Linked DNA regions of Homo sapiens. The protein of the gene in region 1 purifies or fractionates together with the protein of each later gene. This does not show direct contact. Each region holds a gene or a part of one and is shown on either strand. Other genes may lie near its edges.

Region 1 (7,026 bases):
ACACATTCATTTCAACTACTTCTGCCACTATCCATTTGCTGACTACTCCCAAATCCATATCACCAGCCCAGCTCTGTCTCCTGAGCTCTGGATCTGTATATGCAGCTGTTTATGATCAGCCATCCTTGGACTAGTCCACTGACACTTCAAAACAGGGTCCCAAACTCTATATCTTCACCCTCAGATCTGCTCTTGCTCCCAAATCAGGGTCATGGTCCCCATTCACCCAGCTATTCCAGAATCTGTCCCAGGAGTCATCTTTGACTCCTTCCTCTCCGATGCTCCATACTCTCCCCTCCAACAGCAACTCTGATCAGCTTTCCTCCAAATCAGTCCCACTTTGTTAGTTCATGCTCTCACCTGGATTAGTGCTTCCTAGATGGTCTTTTGCCTTTTTTTTTTTTTTTTTAAAGACGGAGTCTCCCTCTATTGCCCAGGCTGGAGTGCAGTGGTGCAATCTTGGCTGACTGCAACCTCCACCTCCCAGATTCAAGGGATTCTCCTGCCTCAGCCTCCCGAGTAGCTGGGACTACAGACGCGTGCCACCATGCCCAGCTAGTTTTTTTTTTTTTTTTTTTTTGTATTTTTAGTAGAGACTGGGTTTCACCATACCGGCCAGGCTGGTCTCAAACTCGTGACCTTGTGATCCGCCTGCCTCAGCCTCCCAAAGTGCTGGGATTACAGTTGTAAGCGACCACGCCTGGCCTACTTTTGCTTTCTTACATTCCAGTGTCTACACTGCCACTGAGAAGGACTATTCTAAAACACAGTTTTGAGCATGTGACTTCTCTGCTAGAAGACTGTCAGTTGCTCCTTTCTCCTCCACAGAGCTCTTCCTCACCTGACTGGTGCTTCCCTTCTGCCTCCCTCTCTGACCTTTGAACTTTAAGCTCCAGCCAGTCTAAACCACTTGTAGTTCCTCAGCTACACCATCCTCTCCCACAGAACTTTCACATACTGCTGCTTCTGGCTGGAATGCCCCTTTCACCCTTCTCTTCTCTGGTTTCTATTATAAGGAAATCTAGCACAAATCTAAACTCTTGAGTTCAGGAGTAACACAGGCTGGAATCGAATTCAGGCTCCACCTCGTATAAACGGTGTCATCTTAAGCAAGTCACTTTTCTTTGCATTTCGGTCTCCTCCTTTGTCACATAAAGAACACCTGCCTGATTGTATTACCATGGGCTAAACTAATTGAACACAAAGCACATAGCACAGTATCTGCCACAGAGTAAATGCTCACTATATGCTCAATAGATATTTTTACTATAGGCACTCAACCTTGACATCTCAGATTAGATACGTTTCCCCAGTGCCCAGGTCCACTTTAGATGTTCTTTCCAAGGCTCTTGCAGCAATCCACAGATGCCTCTATCATAATTCTCCTTCCATCATTCAAGTGCCCACCTTATCGCTGGCAGTTGGTTTATCATCCCTCACTTGACTGTAAGCTTCTCAAGATTAGGTATCTGCCTTACACATTTCTGTTTTGCCAGACCAGCTCCTTAATATTTAATATGTGATGACGTCCAGGGTTTTAATTTTATTAAACACTGAAAGAGAGCTTGTTAAAATTTCACAATATGACACACCTTAGATTAGGCAGGCGATATAGTCAGGTTTTTCACTTGAAAATTCAATTACAGGTAGGCACGGTGGCTTATGCCTGTGATCCCAGCACTTTGGGAAGCCAAAGCAAGAGGATCACTTGAGCCCAGGAGTTTGAGACCAGCCTGGGCAACATAGCAAGACTTTGTCTCTCCTAAAAAATAAAAAAAGAAAAATATAGCCAGGCATGGTGGCACGCGCCTGTAGTCCCAGCTACTCAAAAGGCTGAGGCAGGAGGATCCCTTGAGCCCAGAAGTTCAAGGTTGCAGTGAGCTGTGATCACACCACTGCATCCCTGCCTGGGTGACAGAGCAAGACCTTGTCTGTAAGAAAAAAATAAAAAGTAAAAAACGAAAATAAATTCAATTACATTTCTTCATTCTATATAAACATAAAATGAAAGAGAAGTGGTAGACAGTTCCCACATAATTTCATTTGGCAGCAAAAGTAAATATATGGTGCTCACTTCAGCAGCACATACACTAAAACCATAACAGTTCAGAGAGGACTAGCATGCCCCTGCAGAAGGATGACACACATTTGCAGTGTTACATATTTTCTTTAGAAAAGTAAATATGGCTGGGTGCAGTGGCTCACCCCTGTAATCCCAGCACTTTAGAAGGCCAAGGCGGGTGGATAACCTGAGGTCAGGAGTTTGAGACCAGCCTGGCCAACATGGTGAAACCCCATCCCTACAAAAATACAAAAAAAAATTAGCCGGGCATCATGGCGGGGGCCTGTAATCCCAGCTACTCGGGAGGCTGAGGCGGGAGAACTGCTTGAACCTGGGAGGCGGAGGTTGCAGTGAGCCGAGATCGCACCATTGCATTCCCGCCTGAGTGACAGAGCAAGACTCTGTCTCAAAAAAAAAAAAAAAAAAAGTAAATATATGCTATTTTAAAATGCTATTTTAAAAGAAGCAATTGTGCATAAAAAGAACATTTAAGAATGATTAACTGTACTTTCACACTTCACAGAAATGTCTCAGATCAAGCTCAAATTGCATGGTAGAAATAGGATGTCCCATTAAAATAATGAGGGTATTTCTATGCTCAGGGTTATATTTGTAGAAGTACCAGAAAAAATAAAAAGGAAACTATAAATTGGGCATTATCTTACACACCAGGTAGCTGAATCAATCTGACCTTAATGTTTCATAGGTACTATCTGCAGAGACCAACTCAGGTTGTTCACCTGTCAGAACTAACACTGATTAAATAATGCCCCTGACACTATTCTTAAAACCTTTTGCCTCCATATGTTTAAAGAAAAATCCTAGCAAATCAGCTAAAAATTGTGGTTAGTGAAGTTACTAATGTGCATGAAGAAATACGCATCATCATAATTTCTGGACAATCATTATTTACTGATGTTTTAAAGTTAAATTCACCTGACAATAGTAAATATTCCAGTTCAAAACTGTTATGAAAGAGATTATTAGCACGTTGAAGTTCTGCACAGTTTCCAGCTGAGCTGTCATTTAAACCACACCCACACAGCCCAAAAGCACATCATGCACAGAGAATTCAGGTGAGGTGACATTAAATCTCAACAAGTTTGGGGACATTTGGCAAGATAAAAATCCTTGATCAACTAGTCCAAAAGCACTGTCACCCATAAGAAACAGGGGGAACACTCAGCATAAATACCAATTTCAGCACTTCTTTTACATTGTGTCACTGAAAAGATTCATAGTGTAAGCAGTAGTAAGTTAGAAAATAATCAAGACAAGCCAGGCTCATGCTCCGAGCTCTCTTGGGACACCATTATTACCTTTAGCCACATTTTCCTTCCATCATTCAAGCACCTACCCTATCACTGGCAGTTGGTTTATCATCCTTCACTTGACTGTAAGCTTCTCAAGTTTAGGTTTCTGCCTTACACATTTCTGTTTTGCCAGACCAGCTCCTTGCCTTGGTGTTCATTTAATAAGTGATCACTTCCAGGGTTTTAATTTTATTAAACACTGAAAGAGAGCTTGTTAAAATTTCATAATATGACACATCTTAGATTAGGCAGGCAATATAGTCAGGTTTTTCACTTGAAAATTCAATTACAGGTAGGCACGTTGGCTTATGCCTGTGATCCCAGCACTTTGGGAAGCCAAAGCGGGAGGATCACTCTTCTAAACTATACATAGACTCTCCCTCCTATGAGACTTTGTAACTACACCTGTTCTACACCTATCAGCTTCCAGCTTTTTAATAGCTATATATTAACATGACTTCTCCATCCTACTAGACTGTGGTTTCTTCTAGGTCACTTTAGTGACTCTCCATAGCTTCACACAGGATTTCAATCCATGTTAAGTCTAGGTAACTGAGCACAAAGCATGGCACTATGATAGCTATATCAGGGGATCCAGAAAGTCTTTTTAAAAGAAATTCGATTTTTCTCATAAAGCAAATACTAAAATATATATTGATATGCATATGCACATCAGTTCCACTTTAGAAATAGAAAAATTATCCCTGGGGGGAAAAGTTACTTTTTGTTTTGAAAGATATTTTTTGTAGAGATGGGGAGGGTGGCATAGTTTCACTATGTTGCCCAGGCTGCTCTCGAACTCCCGACCTCAAGTGATCCTTGCACCTCAGCCTCTGTAAACTCAGCTGATAGCAATAACCTAAGCACATTCTGAGAATGACCCTGTATGGCAGACACACCTAAATGTGTGTTCTGAGTTAAGGAGTCCCCAAGTGCCCAACCCAGTGATTTGTTCTTTATCTATGATAAACATGTGAGCACCGCCCATCATGTAACATGGGATGTACAGGGGATTGAGGCCCTGAGTTTTGGGTTAAATGAAGGTTGCCAGGTGGAAGTCATTAGGGGGAAGACGTCAAGTGACAATGCTATGTAAACTACATGTTTGTAGGCAGTTGTGATTTTCCTGCCCTGCCTGCCACCACTGGACTGTAGAAAGACAGATATGTTGTCCAGCCTCCTGCCAATGCCCCTTTTCTATATATAAAGTGGTTCTTCTGTCCAGCCCACCACCACTGGACTCTTTCCCTTGTATGCAAGCCCCTAATAAAACCCTATTTTTGGCTGGGCACGGTGGCTCACGCCTGTAATCCCAACATTTTAAGAGGCCAAGGCTGGTGGATCACCTGAGGTCAGGAGTTCAAAACCAGCCTGACCAACATGGTGAAACTCTGTCCTTACTAAAAAATACAACAATTAGCCAGGCATGGTGGCGGGCACCTGTAATCCCAGCTACTCAGGAGGCTGAGGCACGAGAATCACTTGAAACCAGGAGGTGGAGGTTGCAGTGAGCTGAGATCACGCCACTGCACTCCAGCCTGGGTGACACAGTGAGACTCCATCTCAACAACAACAACCAAAAAAAAAAAAAAAAAAAAAACCCATGTCTTGTTTGCAGGCTCTGGGAATCTTCTTCAGCCTCTTCAACCTGGTGCCTTCACTACTGAGGTTAATGGGGGTTTGGCACAACAGTCTCCCAAAGTGCTGGGGTTACAGGCATGAGCTACCATGCCTGGATTAAAAAAAGCTTTAAAATAATTTATTACTACATGTTCATTGTAGAAAATCTAGAATACACCAATACGAAAACTGAAGATACAACTTTATGGCCCAGAAGAAAAAAATCATGTTTTAAATTATATCTTTCTGCTTTTTCTATACAAACATAGATACATGTTTTGATATATAAATAGTGTATGATCTATTTTGTAGCCTTTTCCTGCTTAACACATGGTACAAATCTTTTGCAAGTCATTAAACATTTTACAACCTAAATTTTTTTAACTGCCTAGTATTCCCAAATATGAATTTACCATTATTTAATCTTTTACTGTTCTTACATTTTTCTTTTTTTTTTTTTTTTTTTGAGACGAAGTCTCACTGTAGCCCAGGCTAGAGTGCAGTGGCACCATCTCGGCTCACTGAAACCTCCACCTCCCTGGTTCAAGCGATTCTTCTGCCTCAGCCTCCCAAGTAGCTGGAATTACAGGCGCGCACCACTGCACCCGGCTAATTTTTTGTATTTTTTAGTAGAGACGGGGTTTCACCATGTTGGCCAGGCTGGTCTTGAACTCCTGACCTCAGGTAACCCGCCCGCCTCGACCTCCCACAGTGCTAGGATTACAGGCATGAGCCACCACACCCGACCTTCATTCGTTTAAATGGTGCTGCAAATAAAAGAAAAAAAGATTGCTCGATTTTACTTCACGTTTATTATAAGTGGCAGTGCTTTTAGACAAGTTCAACAAGTTTTTGTTTTTTTTCTTTGTCTTACGGTGCTGATGAACAAGTTTTTTAATCCTGTAAAATGTTTCCATCTTTATAGCTAGAGGTTTGCCTATATCCATCATTACTTACCATAAATTCCATCTAGAGGGATTACGGGGTCAAAAAATAAACACACTTATAAGGCTTTGATGGATATTGCCAAACTGTTCTCCAAAAACGTGGTTCTAACATACATTTTCTCCAGCAGTGTACACTTAGTATTTTAACCTGCACTGAGATTACCATTTAAAAAAAAAAATCTTTGTCTGCATAGCATTTGGAAATCAGCCTTCAGGACTTCCCCAAACTCTCTTCTTTTGTTCCTCTAGTCTCCTGCTGCCTGATCATCTAAATTACACCTCTGCCCTTCTCAGACCTACTTTTGTTTGTGCTTTTCCACTGCTCAAGTCTTATGGTGGCTTTGCTATAACACAGAAATTTGCCTAGCTAGTATTTTATCCCCTTAGGGCCAAAGTGTCAACTAATCTGATAAACTAATCCATGCTAATGTAAAAGGGCTCATTTCCAGCAACACGTATGCAATATAACACGCAGTTTAAGGAAAATATATTGTCTACAACAGCAATGCCTTTTATCTTATAGAGCAGTGGTTCTCAAGTTTTGCTGCAATGAAGATCATCTGGGGAACTTTTCGTTTTTTATTTTTATTATTATTATTTTTTTGAGACGGAGTCTCACACTGTTGCCCAGGCTGGAGTGCAGTGGCCTGATCTCGGCCCACTGCAAGCTCCACCTCCCGGGTTCACGCCATTCTCCTGCCTCAGCCTCCCGAGTAGCCGGGACTACAGGAGCCTGCCACCACGCCCAGCTAATTTTTTTGTATTTTTAGTAGAGACGAGGTTTCACCGTATTAGCCAGGATGGTCTTGATCTCCTGACCTCGTGATCCGCCCGCCTCGGCCTCCCAAAGTGCTGGGATTACAGGCGTGAGCCACCGCGCCCGGCTGGAACTTTTCTTAAACACTGCTAAGAACGTTCATCTCCCAGAGATTCTAAGTAAGTTTGGTATGTGGTGTAACCTGGGCATCAAGTGTTTTGTTTTGGTTTGGTTTGTTTTAAACAGTTCTTAGGTGATTCTGACATAGCATCTGTGTTTGAGAGGAGTCAGAGAGATCCTAAGTAGCTGCTTCTTAAGGAATATGGG
Region 2 (7,026 bases), on another chromosome or scaffold:
CTTTATGACTTTGTCAGAAATTGGGAATTAGAGCATACCAACAATCTTAAAGTCATTAATTTAACCATCAATCTGTTGATCCTTATGGGCACCAATAATTTAAATTGGTTGCCTTTGTGGGGTTTCAGACATTACAGGAAAAAAGTAGTAAAGGGGGAAATTAGTAAATGCTTCAGCTATCACTTAGTGTCACAAGTTTTCTTATTTCTTACATGTTGCTTAAAAGCGGTCTTAACGTGTGTGTATTTGGTTTTTAAAGATTCTTTGAAAATAAAGATAGTTGTTAGGGCAAATTTTTTAGAGGACTCTCTCCATGCATAATAAGTAACTGTTTCCTAACTTGGAAGTACTTAGGGATGTGGGAGTGTGTACAAACATATATACACTTACATGCTATAAAATTTTAAACTTTAATAGGGGAAGATGGCCCTTTTTGTGTGCCTGTAGCTAAGAAGACCAAAAGATGACACTTTTTCTGGTTAAATGGCTGTTTTAAACTGAAGTGATGTTCTCTAATAATCCTAAATGCCATATTTTCCTTTCAGATTTGTAATTTTATAGAATTATGAGTCTTAATTGCATTTTTTTTTCAGATTAGATAGAATAACATAGTGCGGCCCTCACTTTTGTGAGGGGCCATATCTAGTGAGTGTGTTGATTTGCTTGGTTATTTATGAATGGCTGCTGGTATTTTCTTTGGTATTTTAAAAGCCAAAATGTATTGCTTGCCTAAAATTTTTTAAATTTAAAAGTTTTTATTAAGAGACTATCTTGGAAAGTGACGGGAATAATGGTTGCCCAAATGATTTCCAAGTCAGTTATAGAAAATGCTTTTGAGGGGGAGAACTTGGCAAACTTAAATAGAAGTTTAAAATAAGTTTATTGTTTTTATTTTATTTATTTATGTATTTAGTCGGTGGTATGGATTGGAAGGTTTATTGTCTTTAAATGGCAGTTTTCCTAAGGTACTTTGTTACACATTAGAGTTGCCCAGTGTTTGCTTTTTTCCAACAGGAAATGGTAGTGGATTGGAAGAGAAGCAGCTTTTGACAGTCCAGGCCTAAAGTTTTTGGATTGCAAAAATAATTTGCTTATGCAGGTTATCTTATCGTTTTAGGAATAAGACGAGTTGGAAGAAGACCTGATCAACAACTTCAGGGTGAAGGGAAAATAATTGATAGAAGACCAGAAAGGCGACCACCTCGTGAACGAAGATTCGAAAAGCCACTTGAAGAAAAGGGTGAAGGAGGCGAATTTTCAGTTGATAGGTAAGTTGTTTCTTGTTTTTGAGCCAGGGTCTTGGTCTAACATGTAGGCTGGAGTGCAGTGGTACAAGCTTGGCTCACTGCAGCCTCTGCTTCCTGGGCTCAAATGATCCTCTCATCTCAGTCTCCTCTTGAGTAGCTCGGACTACAAGGTCACGCCACCACACTGCTAATTTTTTTTGTAGAGCTGAGGTCTCACTATATATATTGCATTGGCTGGTCTTGAGCTCCTGTGCTCAAGCTGTCCTCCTGCAATATTGGGATTACAGGCGTAAACCAAAGAAGTCTTCATATTTTGTTACTTTATAGAGTCACATTTTAATGTTAAGCTATAAATTGGGCATAATTGCCAGGTAGCAGTCTGGCTAATTGTTTCTATTAATTTTTCACAGAAACATCTGTATGTGTGCATTGTTAAGCTTTAGATCTTTGGGTAACAGTTCAAACTTAGGTCTCTTGTAATGGAAACACTTTGTTGAATTGATAACCAATTTCTTTTTCTTTCTCTCTCCAGATACAGAGTTAAAAGGAAAATACTGTTAGTTGAAGGAAAATACTGTTGGTTTATTGTTTATAGCAAATAAATTACTTATGCAAGTTAGATGTGTTTAATTTTTAAGTGTATTGGTAAATAGTGATGGACTGGATTATATGTGCAATGAATAGCAGTGGAAAAGTATATGCACTGGTAGTAATGCTTTAGAGTGCTAAAATAGTTTTCTTGTTTTGGGAGGCTGTCTTGTTCTGGTTTCCTTTGTGTTTAGAAACAGACTATTTTGAATTTTCTGAAGTGTATGTATTTAACTATTGGTTTTTGAGCCAGTAAACATGTTCTGTATTTTTGATCTTTTGGATGAATTTTCCTCATTTCTTCTGGAAACCATGGAAGTATAATTTATTTGTTTATATTATAGACCGATTATTGACCGACCTATTCGAGGTCGTGGTGGTCTTGGAAGAGGTCGAGGGGGCCGTGGACGTGGAATGGGCCGAGGAGATGGATTTGATTCTCGTGGCAAACGTGAATTTGATAGGCATAGTGGAAGTGATAGATCGTAAGTCTTACTGGTTTTTATTTTACTTTAATATTTTAATCTATTTAATAAACAAACTTTGAATTTCTAGAACTAAAGAGTATTATGTTAACTCAGTTTTGTTAGTTCTTTTTCACATTACAGTGGCCTGAAGCACGAGGACAAACGTGGAGGTAGCGGATCTCACAACTGGGGAACTGTCAAAGACGAATTAACGTTGGTATTCTGATTTTCTTAAAAATTCTATACCTAACTAGAGGTTAATCCATACCTCTGTCAAATTTTACTTGTCTCTGAGATAAGAATGAATGCTCTCTTCTGAGAGTTACTATATTACAAGATAATGTCTTATGGGATGGGTTTGGGTTATAGTATATTGAATGACCGGTTTTTTAATATTTCGATATATTTGTTACTCATTTTTTCCCCCCCATATGTATTTGTAGCTTTTCCTGAAACCCCACAATAAGGTTATTTGGGTATTCTGATTATCTTAGTGTCCTTAATAGTTCCTATTCTAGCTTTTGACTTTGTTGTCATTACAAAATTTGATAAGCTAGTAAAGCTTCATTTTATAATTAACTGCCTTGTTCTGTTACTTTTTAAGTATGAAGTATATGAACTAACTAGTTTATATTGTTTACTTTTCGACGTCTTCTGGGGAGTATATTTAGTAAGAAAGGAGTTAGAGAATGTGAGAGCTTATGGTATTTTTGTATGAAGAACTTTTCAGCTACATGTAAATGGACCTAGATGCCTTTCTTTTTCTTTCTTTCCTTAGAGAGTCCCCCAAATACATTCAGAAACAAATATCTTATAATTACAGTGACTTGGATCAATCAAATGTGACTGAGGAAACACCTGAAGGTGAAGAACATCATCCAGTGGCAGACACTGAAAATAAGTAAGTGGTATTGCGTGTAATAGTAATGACCCAGAATTGAAAGCACTGGAGTTTTACCAATAAGATAACCCATAGATTTAATGCTGTTACTTGATGGCTTTTTGTTTTTGACAAGGGAGACTTACTGTACCCTCATCCCTCAAAGAGTATTTGAAAGAATGCTTTTTTTTTCTTTTTTTAATAGAGACAGGGTCTCACTATATTGCCTAGGCAGGTCTCCAATTCCTGGGCTCAAGCGTTCCTCCTGCCTTGGCCTCCCAAAGTGCTGGGATTACAGGCATGAGCCACTGCACCCAGCCCTTAAAAGAGTGGTTTATGTGTATATATTTGACTCTAACGCTTTGAAAAATAGAATATTTTAATGTGGTTATTTCTGTTTGATTAGTCATTTTACCATTGTCATACAACTGTACAAATTTTACTTTGAGATAGTTAAAACTAGAAAATGTGGCCATTTTAACATTAGTTCTATCTTGAAGTTATTTCCAATGTAGAATTTGGAACATAGCATTACTGGCCTGTTTTTAAATGTATGAAGAGAGCAAAGATCAGAGTATGTTATTCACTATCTTTTTTTTTTTTTTTCTTTTTTTGAGACAAGATTTCATTCTGTTGCCGAGGCTGGAGTGCAGTGGAGTGATCTTGGCTCACTGCACCCTCCGCCTCCTGGGCTCAAATGATCCTTCCACGTCAGCCTCCTAAGTAGCTGGGACTATAGGTGCCTGCCACCAGGCCCGGCTAATTTTTGTATTTTTAGTAGAGACAGGGTTTCACCATTTTGCCCAGGCTGGTCTTCAACTCCTGAGCTCAGGCAAGCCACCCACCTTGGCCTCCCAAAGTGCTGGGATTACAGGCGTGAGCCACCTTGCCCAGCCCTTCACTAACTTTTTTTTTTGTGTGTGTGAGATGGAGTTCACTCTTGTTGCTTAGGCTGGAGTGTAGTGGCACTGTCGGCTCACTGCAACCTCCGCCTCCCGGGTTCACGCGATTCTCCTGCCTCAGCCTCTGGAGTAGCTGGGATTACAGGCACCCGCCACCATGCCTGGCTAATTTTTTATATTTTTTAGACCAGCTGGCCAGGCTGGTCTCGAACTCCTGACCTCGGTGATCCACCCTCCTTGGCCTCCCAAAGTGCTGGGATTACAGGTGTGAGCCACCACACCCAGCCCTTCACTAGCTTTTAAAATTACATGGTGTTTTGTTTTGTTTTGTTTTGTTTTGTTTTGTTTTGTTTTGTTTGGAGACATTCTCGCTCTGTTGCCCAGGCTGAAGTAACAGTGGCGCTATCTTGGCTCACTGCAACCTCCGCCCCCTGGGTTCAAACGATTCTCCTGCCTCACCCTCCCGAGTAACTGGGATTACAGGCATGCATCACCACGCCCAGCTAATTTTTTGTATTTTTAGTAGAGACAGGATTTCACCATGTTGGCCAGGCTGGTCTCGAACTCCTGACCTCAGGTGATGCATCCGCCTTGGCCTTCCAAAGTGCTGGGATTACGGGCATGAGCCACCACGCCTGACCTAAAATCATGTTTACTTTGCCAGTTATTTGTTACAGTATTGTGGTTTAAAGTCTTGGATTACAGGTTATTTAGGACAGTGATTCCTAACCAGAAGCATATTCAAGTTAGTTGGGGGGTGGGAGGGGCAGATGTTTTCTAAACTTTTTCTTTTTTCTTTTTTTTTTTTGAGATGGAGTTTTGCTCTTGTTGCCTGTGCTGGAGTGCAATGGCGTGATCTCGGCTCACTGCAACCTCTGCCTCCAGGGTTCAAGCAATTCTCCTGCCTCAGCTCCTGAGTAGCTGGGATTACAGGCATGTGCCACCACGCCCGGCTAATTTTGTATTTTTAGTAGAGATGGGTTTCTCCATGTTGGTCAGGCTGATCTCGAACTCTGACCTCAGGTGATCTGCCCTCCTTGGCCTCCCAAAGTGCTGGGATTACAGGCGTGAGCTGCCGCACCTTAAACTTTTTCTTTTCTTCAGAAAGAATTTGCTCTTATGGTGAGCACTGTTAATGATGGGAATATCATATTCCGTGGATTTGTTGGGATAAGGAAAAATGATATACTATTGGAGGGAGTAGATAAAAATACATGGTATTGGGTGATGTTTTGAACTTGGTAATAAAAATTTATGCAAAACTATAATGGAATCATAATTTTGCATGATAAACAATGAAGTTGTGATTGGTGCCTTAACAAATGAACCCTATGCAACGTTAAGTTTCTCATAGTGGTCAACACAACTTTTTTTTGTTTCTTTGAGACACAGTCTCCTGTCTCCCATGCTAGAGTGCAGTGGCGCGATTTTGGCCATTCTGAAGTTCAAGCGATTCTCCTGCCTCAGCCTCCCGAGTACTGGGACTACAGGCATGCTCCACCATGCCTGGCTAATTTTTGTATTTTCAGTAGAGACATGGTTACACCATGTTGGCCAGGCTGGTCTTGAACTCCTGGCCTCAAGTGATCCTCCCGCCTTGGCCTCCCAAAATGCTGGGATTACAGGTGTGAGCCACCGTGTCCAACCACAACTGTTTAATAGAGCCCATGTTCAATCACTCAGTGATATGCAAAGATTATAACTGTTTACCAAAAGGTACTAATGTATTGATAGGCTATTGGTAGCAAATCCTTAGCTCAGTGCCCAGGAGCGAAACTGAGGGTGTTTGGTTTAAAGAAAATAATTATCCATCACATTAGAACTGTCTGTAATCTTATTCCAGACTAGGGGAGAATCTGGGCATAGCATATGGAAGTATAAATTTAAGAAACACAACATTGGCTGACTTTGATGAACTAACTTATATATAGCTTCCAGAGCTTCTGTTTGGTTTTTATTTAATCCTTGCAGTAATTCCTGAAAGGTAGGTGTCATGCCTCCATGATATGATAAAAGGTATGCTAAGTTCTATTCCTGGCTGTGTCATAACATATGGGTAAGCAGGACTTTTTTTATATTCTTAGATTTCTCATCTGTAAAATGACTAGGTGGACTCAGTACCCAAGATCCCAAGATCCTGTCAATTCAATATAAACTTGCTCTAGGAAGTTTTTTGTTTTTTTTTTGCAGCATAGATGTAACTGGAGGAACTTTTAAGATAGCATTTGTCAAACAGTAAAGGGCAGCATCCAGGGAGATATTTGAGCTCTAAGGCTAACTGAATCACCTGCTATCTTTGGAAAGAAGCAGGGCTCCCCAAATAGCAAATGACTTGTTTGGTGACAATTGCAGATTGAGATTATACTAAAATAATGGATCCTTAGGCCTGTGCTTTGTTTCTGTAAAAAGAGGAAAGGATCATATTCTATAGTTAAGACCTGAGAATTATATTTGGAAATAAATGGTTTAGTATTAAATAATGAAACCAGTGTGTGTTTGTGGATAGTTCTATTAGTAGTGAATCCATGGCCTCCTTTCCATATACAGGTTGGTTTGAAAATTGGAGTATAAGGATTTTAGGATTTGTAGAAACACGGCTATTGTTTTGATTTGCTCTAAGTGCTAGTTGCTGAAACAAAGCATAGAGGAACAGTTCTTTTATATTCCAAAATTTGAACCCTGGTTGCTGACAGACATCCTAGAGGATTACCTTCTTGTATGTTATTAAGAGTTACATATTGTGGGAATTATGGAAATTAAAAATGTGGTTTAGGAGAAGATAGGCTGAGGATTTTACATAAGAGGGTAGTTTTTAAACAAGGTAGTGTTTTTAAGAAATGTGTATTTTAGTATTCGTAAAGCCAGTTCTAGATTGTATTACTGATAAATGATCATTTAAGAGTTCATAAGTATGAATTCCATATTCCTTACTTGTCTCTAAT
Region 3 (7,010 bases), on another chromosome or scaffold:
GGTTTGGTTTTCTTAACTGTTGGCTTCTCCCCACAGCGTTTTTTGTTTTTTTTTAAACATTCATATTGTTTTCAAACTTGGAATTCATAGACACTCTGGCTCTAGGTTCCTTAAGGGGGAAAACAAAAGATGACTTTATTTCACATTCAAGAAAATCAGTTCAGTTCCAAAGCTGTGGTCCTTCCAGCCACTTCTAGGGACACTGGGGAACCTTGTTAAACGTTGACATCAGTGCTCTCCAGCCGTGCTGTCACCCTCCTATCTTCTGGATCTGCCTTCGCGATGGTCAGTGACAGCTTCTGGAAGCTGAGCACACACAGGTGCACAGCCATGCTGTGGTCTGGCCTGCTACGGCAGCATGGCAGCTCTGGTGGAGCCTTCTCCCTTGCCATTTGGTTCCCCTGTGCCAAGTAGCTGCAGGCTGCCCCTCAAATCTTCATTTGTCCCTTTTCACTTCCTGCAGAACAAGCCTGGGTTAGAGGGTCTGCTGGAAATGGCCTTTGAAGACCAAGGATACCAGGATGTGTGCACTCTGTCGTGTTCTGTGATGAATGGGAAACGTAGGCTTCCAGAAAGCCAGCTCTCTTCTGAAATGTGACGGACCTAAGCAGGAAGTCATCCAGGACAGGAGTGGCTCAGTGTTGGGGATGGACGCTGTCGCCCAGCCATGCTCCACCAGGGCCACCAATGTGTAGTTGGCTGGTGGTCTTCGGGCATGTGAGACCTGCTCTTCACTGTTTCCACCCCACTTGGTGGCCTCCAGGATGGTAGTGGCACCCTCAGAGCCCCATCTTCAGCATGTTCTGAAGCCTCAGAGTGGAAATTCCTGCTAAGGCTCTGTGTGGACGCCTTTCTCCCGTGATCTAAAGGGGACACTGTACTCAAGCTTTTGACCTCATGCCTTGTGTAGTAAAAAAGGATTTGGGGGTTTTGTTTGGTTCCTGAGAGGGTTGTGTTTTGTTTTTGTTTCCTTTTGTTTATGTTTTGGCCTTTCCTCTTTGTCTTTCCATGTAGACCAGATATTTGAAAGGGCAGACGATGGCTAGAGGTGTAATGTGCAGCTTGTTTATACGGTATTTTGGGAAACTTACCTTGGATGGGAAATCGAATCGTGGATTCACCAGGCCGGTGCTGGCACACTCACCCTCGCCCTTTCCCTCCGGTTCAGTACCTATTGTTTCTCCTTTCAAATATGTGATTGTACTAGCTCTTTCCATATGAAAGAATTCTCCTTATTTAAATAAAAAAAGTTTAAAAAGATAAAGCTGAACGTGCTTTCTCAGGTTGTACATCCCTCGTTTCTTGGTCATTTGACCAGAGAGACCTACAGATCAAAGAATTCTAATTTTACAGAGTTCACACGGAAATTAGGAGTGGCACGGCTGAAATGCCTTAACAGAAGCTGTGTGGGTAGAGAAGGGATTGAAACCCGTGGCTAAGAAGCATCTTCCAAATGCGGCAGCATCAAGCACTCCACCCTCTTCCCACGGATGGCATCTGGTTGTGCACAGTGCCTGCCTGTGGCCCCGTCACTTGCCGTGAGAAACGAGCTGGTCAGAGGAGGTAAGCATTTGATGTGGCGTGTTGTGTTGTCACTTCTAGCGGTGCTTTTGCAGGAAGTGGAGGAGGATTATGCTGTGCTTTGGGGTGGGGAGGGAGCAAGCCAGGCCTGGGGTAGCGAAGGGTAAAAGGTAAGAATGGGCTGAGGCAGCAGTTCTCGGTTTTGCCATTGCCTCACTGACCTGGGGAAAGACGTTTCACCACCTGAGTCAGTCTCCTTAATCATAAAACACAGATTGTAATGGTATCGACCTCATGGCGTAGTGTGGATTCAAAGTCACCAGTAGCTTTTAGCTTAGTGCCTAGAACCAGCTAAGAAAACTTATAAATTACCCCCAAGAAATAAAACGCTGTTTCCATGAGGAACCCCAGTCCCTCAACTTCCTTCTAAGCCTTTTGACTATGGAAGAGAGTTGGGGACCTGGCCATGGGCATCTCAGCTTTAACTAGCCACACTCACTGCCCTGATTTACTGCTCCCTAGGGACAGGTGGCTCACAAAATCTCAAACGGAGACCAGCCCTGAAAGAGGCTAGTCCTAAGGTTGGGGGCTTGCAAGATGGAGGCTGTAAGTCCTGAGGCACCACCACTGTTAGCATGGCATGAACCAAAGCTTAACAGCCCAGCCCCACTCCCTCCTGGGGCCCAGGGAACCCTCCCTGCCCACTGTAAATACAGTTGCCTGCAGGCTCTGGCCACAAACCCAGGTGAGCCCCAGCTCCTTGCCTCTCTGTGGGATCTTGGGTGAGTCACATAACCCCTCAAGGGTAAGCCATAAAGAAGTAACCACGAAATTCTAACTGGTGTCATCTAATGCTATGTTGCCCAACATGGAAAAAAAGTCTTGCAGGCAGCCAAGAACCATAATGAAGGTTATTAAACCTGCAGTGTGCCCTTTTGGTCTGTATAGATTAACATACAAATAGACCAGGAGATCAAGAAGGAGCGAGGCTGAGAAGAGTGATCCATCAGCCTGGTTGCGTTGCTGTCAGTTACCCTGCTCTGGGTGCCGACTGTTCAGGGAAAACATGGGAAGGGGTGCATTGACCCAACCAAAAGTACCATGTCTGCTCCAAAGCAGGCCTTTGGGAAGGCTCTTGACCCTCAGCAGAGGGGGCTGGAGAGGCTGATGGATGAGGAGGAGCCCTGGGAATGGAGGAAGAAGCCTCCAGTCTTCTGCCACGGAGTTTAGGGGAGATGCCCCCACTGGAGCCTCTGATGGTCATGCAGCCCCCACTGATGTCCAGGTTTTTTTGGTTTTGTTTTTTGTTTTGAGACGGTCTCACTTTGTAGTCCAGGCTGGAGTGCAGTGGTGAGACCAAGGCTCACTGCAGCCTCGACCTCTCTGCCCCAAGTGATCTCCTGCCTCAGCCTCCCTTGTAGCTGGGACTGCAGGCAGACGCCAAGGGGCCCCGCTAATTTTTGTATTTTTTTGTAGAGACGGGGTCTCGCTGTGTTGCCCAGGCTCTCCTGGACTCAAGCGGGCTCACGGATCCTCCCACCTCGGCCACCCAAAGTGCTGGGGTTACAGGCGTGAGCCACCGCCCCCGGCCCTAGGTCCGTTTTAAATGCCCTTACCCTCAGCCACTTCACCGCTAGATGTATGTGCAAGCAGGATCGTGGCATCGATGTTTTTCGGCAAGGAAACTAGGAGCGCCCGCGGGCGTGGGGGCACGTGCCTGTGGTCTCAGCTGCTCTGGAGGCCGAGGAGGGAGGATCGCTTCGGGCAGAGAGGTCGAGGCTGCAGCAAGCCGTGGTCCTGCCACTGTACTCCAGCCTGGGCGACAGAGCGAGACCCCGTGTCTTAAAAAAAAAATTAAGGTCGGACGCAGTGGCTCACGCCTGTAATCCCAGCACTTTGGGAGGCCGAGGTGGGCGGATCACTTCAGGTCAGGAGTTCGAGACCAGCCTGGCCAACATGGTGAAACCCTGTCTCTACTACAAATACAAAAATTAACCGGGCGTGGTGGCGTGCGCCTTCAATCTCAGCTACTCGGGAGGCTGAGGCAGGAGAATCGCTTGAACCCGGGAAGCGGAGGTTGCGGTGAGCCGAGATCGCGCCATTGCACTCCAGCCTGGGCAACAAGAGCGAAACTCCGTCTCAAAAAAAAAGAAAAGAAAAGAAAAGAAAAAAACTAGGAGCAAACTGGCGCGCCCGGCAGAACGCCGTTGTGCAGACGCAGAATTAAGATCTTCACGCCAGATGGAGTGAAAAAGCAAGGAGCAGAAGATGGGTGGGAGCCCACTGCGCTTTTTAAAATCTGCACGTCTGCTTAGAGTACACAGAAATCCTGGCACACAAAACAGTAGCACCCGAGAGAGGGGAGGTCGCCGCGTTTCACACCTGCCTCTCCTCCGGGACCGGCGCCCTCGCCCGCTGCGCACGCGCGTCACCCTCTCCCAGTGCGCACGCGCGCTGCTGCCCGTCTGGCCCCGCAGGCTCGGTGAATCGAACGTTGAGCAGGGCGGTGGGTGGTGCGGAGTGCCGAGCGGCCTCACCCCCAACCGTCGGCCCAGTCGGACGGTTCCGAGGCGTTGCCGGGAGCCGGGCGCGGCTCTGTGTGGACTCGGAGAAACGCGGGTACATTTGGGGACACCGGGGACGAGAGCCCAGCCCGGACTTGGGGGAGTCCGTCAGTGCCGGACGCGGGTCCCTGGCTTGCGGACGGGCTGGGGCCGGGGGCGTCCCCGTCTTTCCGGAGCTGGGGGCGGGGTTCGGGCCCGGGCAGATGCGGCGTTCGGGCGGCCGAGCCCCGAAGTAAGAACTCCGTGGCGCGTGCAGCCCTAGGGAGGAAGGGCGTGCTGCGGGTGCAGTCTCAGGGTGAGGACGGAGCTGGGGCCGACGCAGCCTCGGGAGTTGGTGGACGGGACAGGTGCGGCCTGTGGGGAAGAAGGGCCGGCCAGGGAGATGCGGTCTGCAAGGGGAGAGGAGGCACTCCCAGGACAGATGGGACCTTTTGGGACGAAGGCGCTCAAGGCAGATGCAGCTCAGGGAGGGAAGGGCGCGTCCAGGGTAGATGGGGCCTGAGGAGACCAGCGGGGCGCCAACGGCCAGATGCGGCTTTGGTGTGAGACAGGGTGTCCCAGGCCTGATGCAGCCTCAAGAGAAGCGGAGCTCAAGGGAAGATGAAGCCTGGAGGAGAACGTGGGGGCGCAGGGTGCAAATGCACCCTCCAGGCGAGAAAGGGAGCACCCGGGGATGATGTGCCGCTGGGATAGAAGGCAGGGAGGCACTGGGGGCAGATGCATCCTTGAGGAGAGATGAGGAGGCCCCGAGGCTCGGCCAGGTTGGGGTCCCTGGGCTGTAAGCAGCTGAGATGGCACCCAGGAGCTGCCCAGGGTCAGGTAGCTGTGGCCGCACTGTGGGCTTCTGGTCGTCGGGGAGGGAGGGGAGAAACCCTGGCGTTCCTTAGCAGTGTTCTCGCGCCCAAGACGTGCTCGGCAGGTTTTGTGGAATGAGTTGTTGAAAGGAGTGAATGTCCAGTCCTGAGATCCCCTGAATTCCCACCCGAGTTCACTGCTAGTGCCCCTCACCCCACATGTCTACCTGAACCAAGGCTCCAGGAACTTCGGTCTTTCTCAGCAGCCCGGCTGTGCTGTGGTTCTCCTCGTGTGTCCGGGAGCCGGGTGGCTGGGGATCCCTTCTGTAGCCTCTCGTGAGCCCTCATGGACCACGGCTCCTCCCTTCTTTTCTAGGGCGTCTGCCTGAGCCCGCTTTTCTACAAGATGTGGGGATTTTTGAAGCGCCCTGTAGTGGTGACGGCTGACATCAACTTGAGCCTTGTGGCCCTGACTGGGATGGGGTTACTGAGCCGGCTGTGGCGACTCACCTACCCGCGGGCTGTGGTGTAAGCTAAATGACTCCATTCCCAGGGTGAATCTAGAATTGTACTTTGTGACAGGAGGCGCCCTTACTGAATAGCATAAATGGGAGAGTGAAATCCTGGCTTCTTGGTGATAGGTGTTTTTGGCAGTGAGAGGAGAGACCAGTCTGTCCCCAGGACAGCCCCAGCAGAGTACACCTTTTAGGTCTTGCCTTCTGAGTCTGTAACAGGTGAAATTTGGCCCATTAAAGGGGTGCAGTAGAGGAAAATCTGGTTGCCAGCCTTAAGTAACAGTTTTAAAGTCTGGACGGCAGAGGATTAATGGATTTGGAAGTAAGTCTTCACTGTTGAGAGCACTTTTTAGAATGTGTTTTTGTCATAATGGGAAGTGATTGCTGTTATTATTGAAGGGCTCTTTATTAACTGATTAATGTGTGTATGTGTGTGTGTGTGTGTGTGTGTGTGTGTGTGTGTGTTTTTGAGACGGAGTCTTGCTGTGTCGCCCAGGTTGGAGTGCAGTGGTGCCATCTCGGCTCACTGCAACCTCTGCCTCCTGGGTTCAAGCAATTCTCTGCCTCAGCCTCCCGAGTAGCTGAGATTACAGGTGCCCGCCACCACACCCAGCTAATTTTTGTATTTTTAGTAGAGACGGGATTTCACCATCTTGGCCAGGCTGGTATTGAACTCCTGACCTCATGATCCACCCACCTGGGTCTCCCAAAGTGTTAGGATTACAGGCGTGAGCCACTCCGCCCTGCTGCATGTTCTTTTTTGTTTAACTTTTTATTATGGAAAACGTCAAACATATACAAAAGCAGGGAGACAAGTATAATGAATGACCCCCCCACACACACCAGTATTTTCATTACCCAGCTTCACCTTATCAGTTCACAGCCAGGCCCCTCCCTGCAGTGGTTTTTACTTTGCAGCAAATCCTAGTATTCATAGATAATTCAGCGGTATATCTGTAAAAGATGAGGATTTTTTTTTTTTTTTTGGAGACATAGTTTTACTCTGTCGCCCAGGCTGTAGTGCAATGGTGCGATCGTGATTCTCCTACTTCAGCCTCCCGAGTACCTGGGATTACAGGCACCTGCCACCACGCCTGGCTCATTTTTGTATTTTTAGTAGAGAAGGGGTTTCACCATGTTGGCCAAGCTGATCTTGAACTCCTGACCTTGTGATCCACCTACCTTGGCCTCCCAAAGTGCTGGGATTACAGGCGTGAGCCACCGTGCCTGGCTGAGGATTCTTAAAAACAAAAATCACATAACCACAGTTGCATTATCATGCCTGAGAAATTGACAGCAGTTTCTTGGTTATCTTCACCTCTCCCTGATTGAAAACATGTTATTGCAGTTGATTCCCACGTTTTCCTTTCATACTTGCAGCCGTTTCATTGGGTCATCGCTAGCCACAGACATGTGCTGCTGGTGGGGGCGGGGGTGGGGGGGTTGGGTAGGTGGGTAAGCAGGATTAGCCTTGCGTCCCAGGAGGTCTTTCAGCAGGTTGGCTCATAGTATCCACCTAAATCAAACACAAGGGAGAGACAGAATCTGTATGGGCAGGCATGCTGAGTGCCAGCTGTGCTTGGTGAATTCCCCATGTCTCTGTGGGTGGGTGATGC

What was found.
Region 2: the proteins of NCEH1 (region 1) and SERBP1 purify together in Homo sapiens (affinity purification with mass spectrometry; 2 studies listed by BioGRID and IntAct, with this or other methods). This does not show direct contact.
Region 3: the proteins of NCEH1 (region 1) and POMT1 purify together in Homo sapiens (affinity purification with mass spectrometry; 2 studies listed by BioGRID and IntAct, with this or other methods). This does not show direct contact.

What each region holds. Positions count from the first base shown.
Region 1 is NC_000003.12:172,701,058-172,708,083, forward strand, and holds part of NCEH1 (neutral cholesterol ester hydrolase 1), read right to left. Parts: intron 1-7,026.
Region 2 is NC_000001.11:67,420,377-67,427,402, reverse strand, and holds part of SERBP1 (SERPINE1 mRNA-binding protein 1), read left to right. Parts: intron 1-1,117; coding exon 1,118-1,268; intron 1,269-2,179; coding exon 2,180-2,320; intron 2,321-2,425; coding exon 2,426-2,515; intron 2,516-3,080; coding exon of another isoform or gene 3,081-3,125; coding exon 3,126-3,203; intron 3,204-7,026. UniProt on the Homo sapiens protein: Ribosome-binding protein that promotes ribosome hibernation, a process during which ribosomes are stabilized in an inactive state and preserved from proteasomal degradation.
Region 3 is NC_000009.12:131,498,934-131,505,943, forward strand, and holds the start of POMT1 (protein O-mannosyl-transferase 1), read left to right. Parts: upstream 1-3,984; 5' UTR 3,985-4,140; exon of another isoform or gene 4,141-4,380; intron 4,381-5,255; 5' UTR 5,256-5,285; coding exon 5,286-5,407; exon of another isoform or gene 5,408-5,716; intron 5,717-7,010. UniProt on the Homo sapiens protein: Transfers mannosyl residues to the hydroxyl group of serine or threonine residues. Coexpression of both POMT1 and POMT2 is necessary for enzyme activity, expression of either POMT1 or POMT2 alone is insufficient.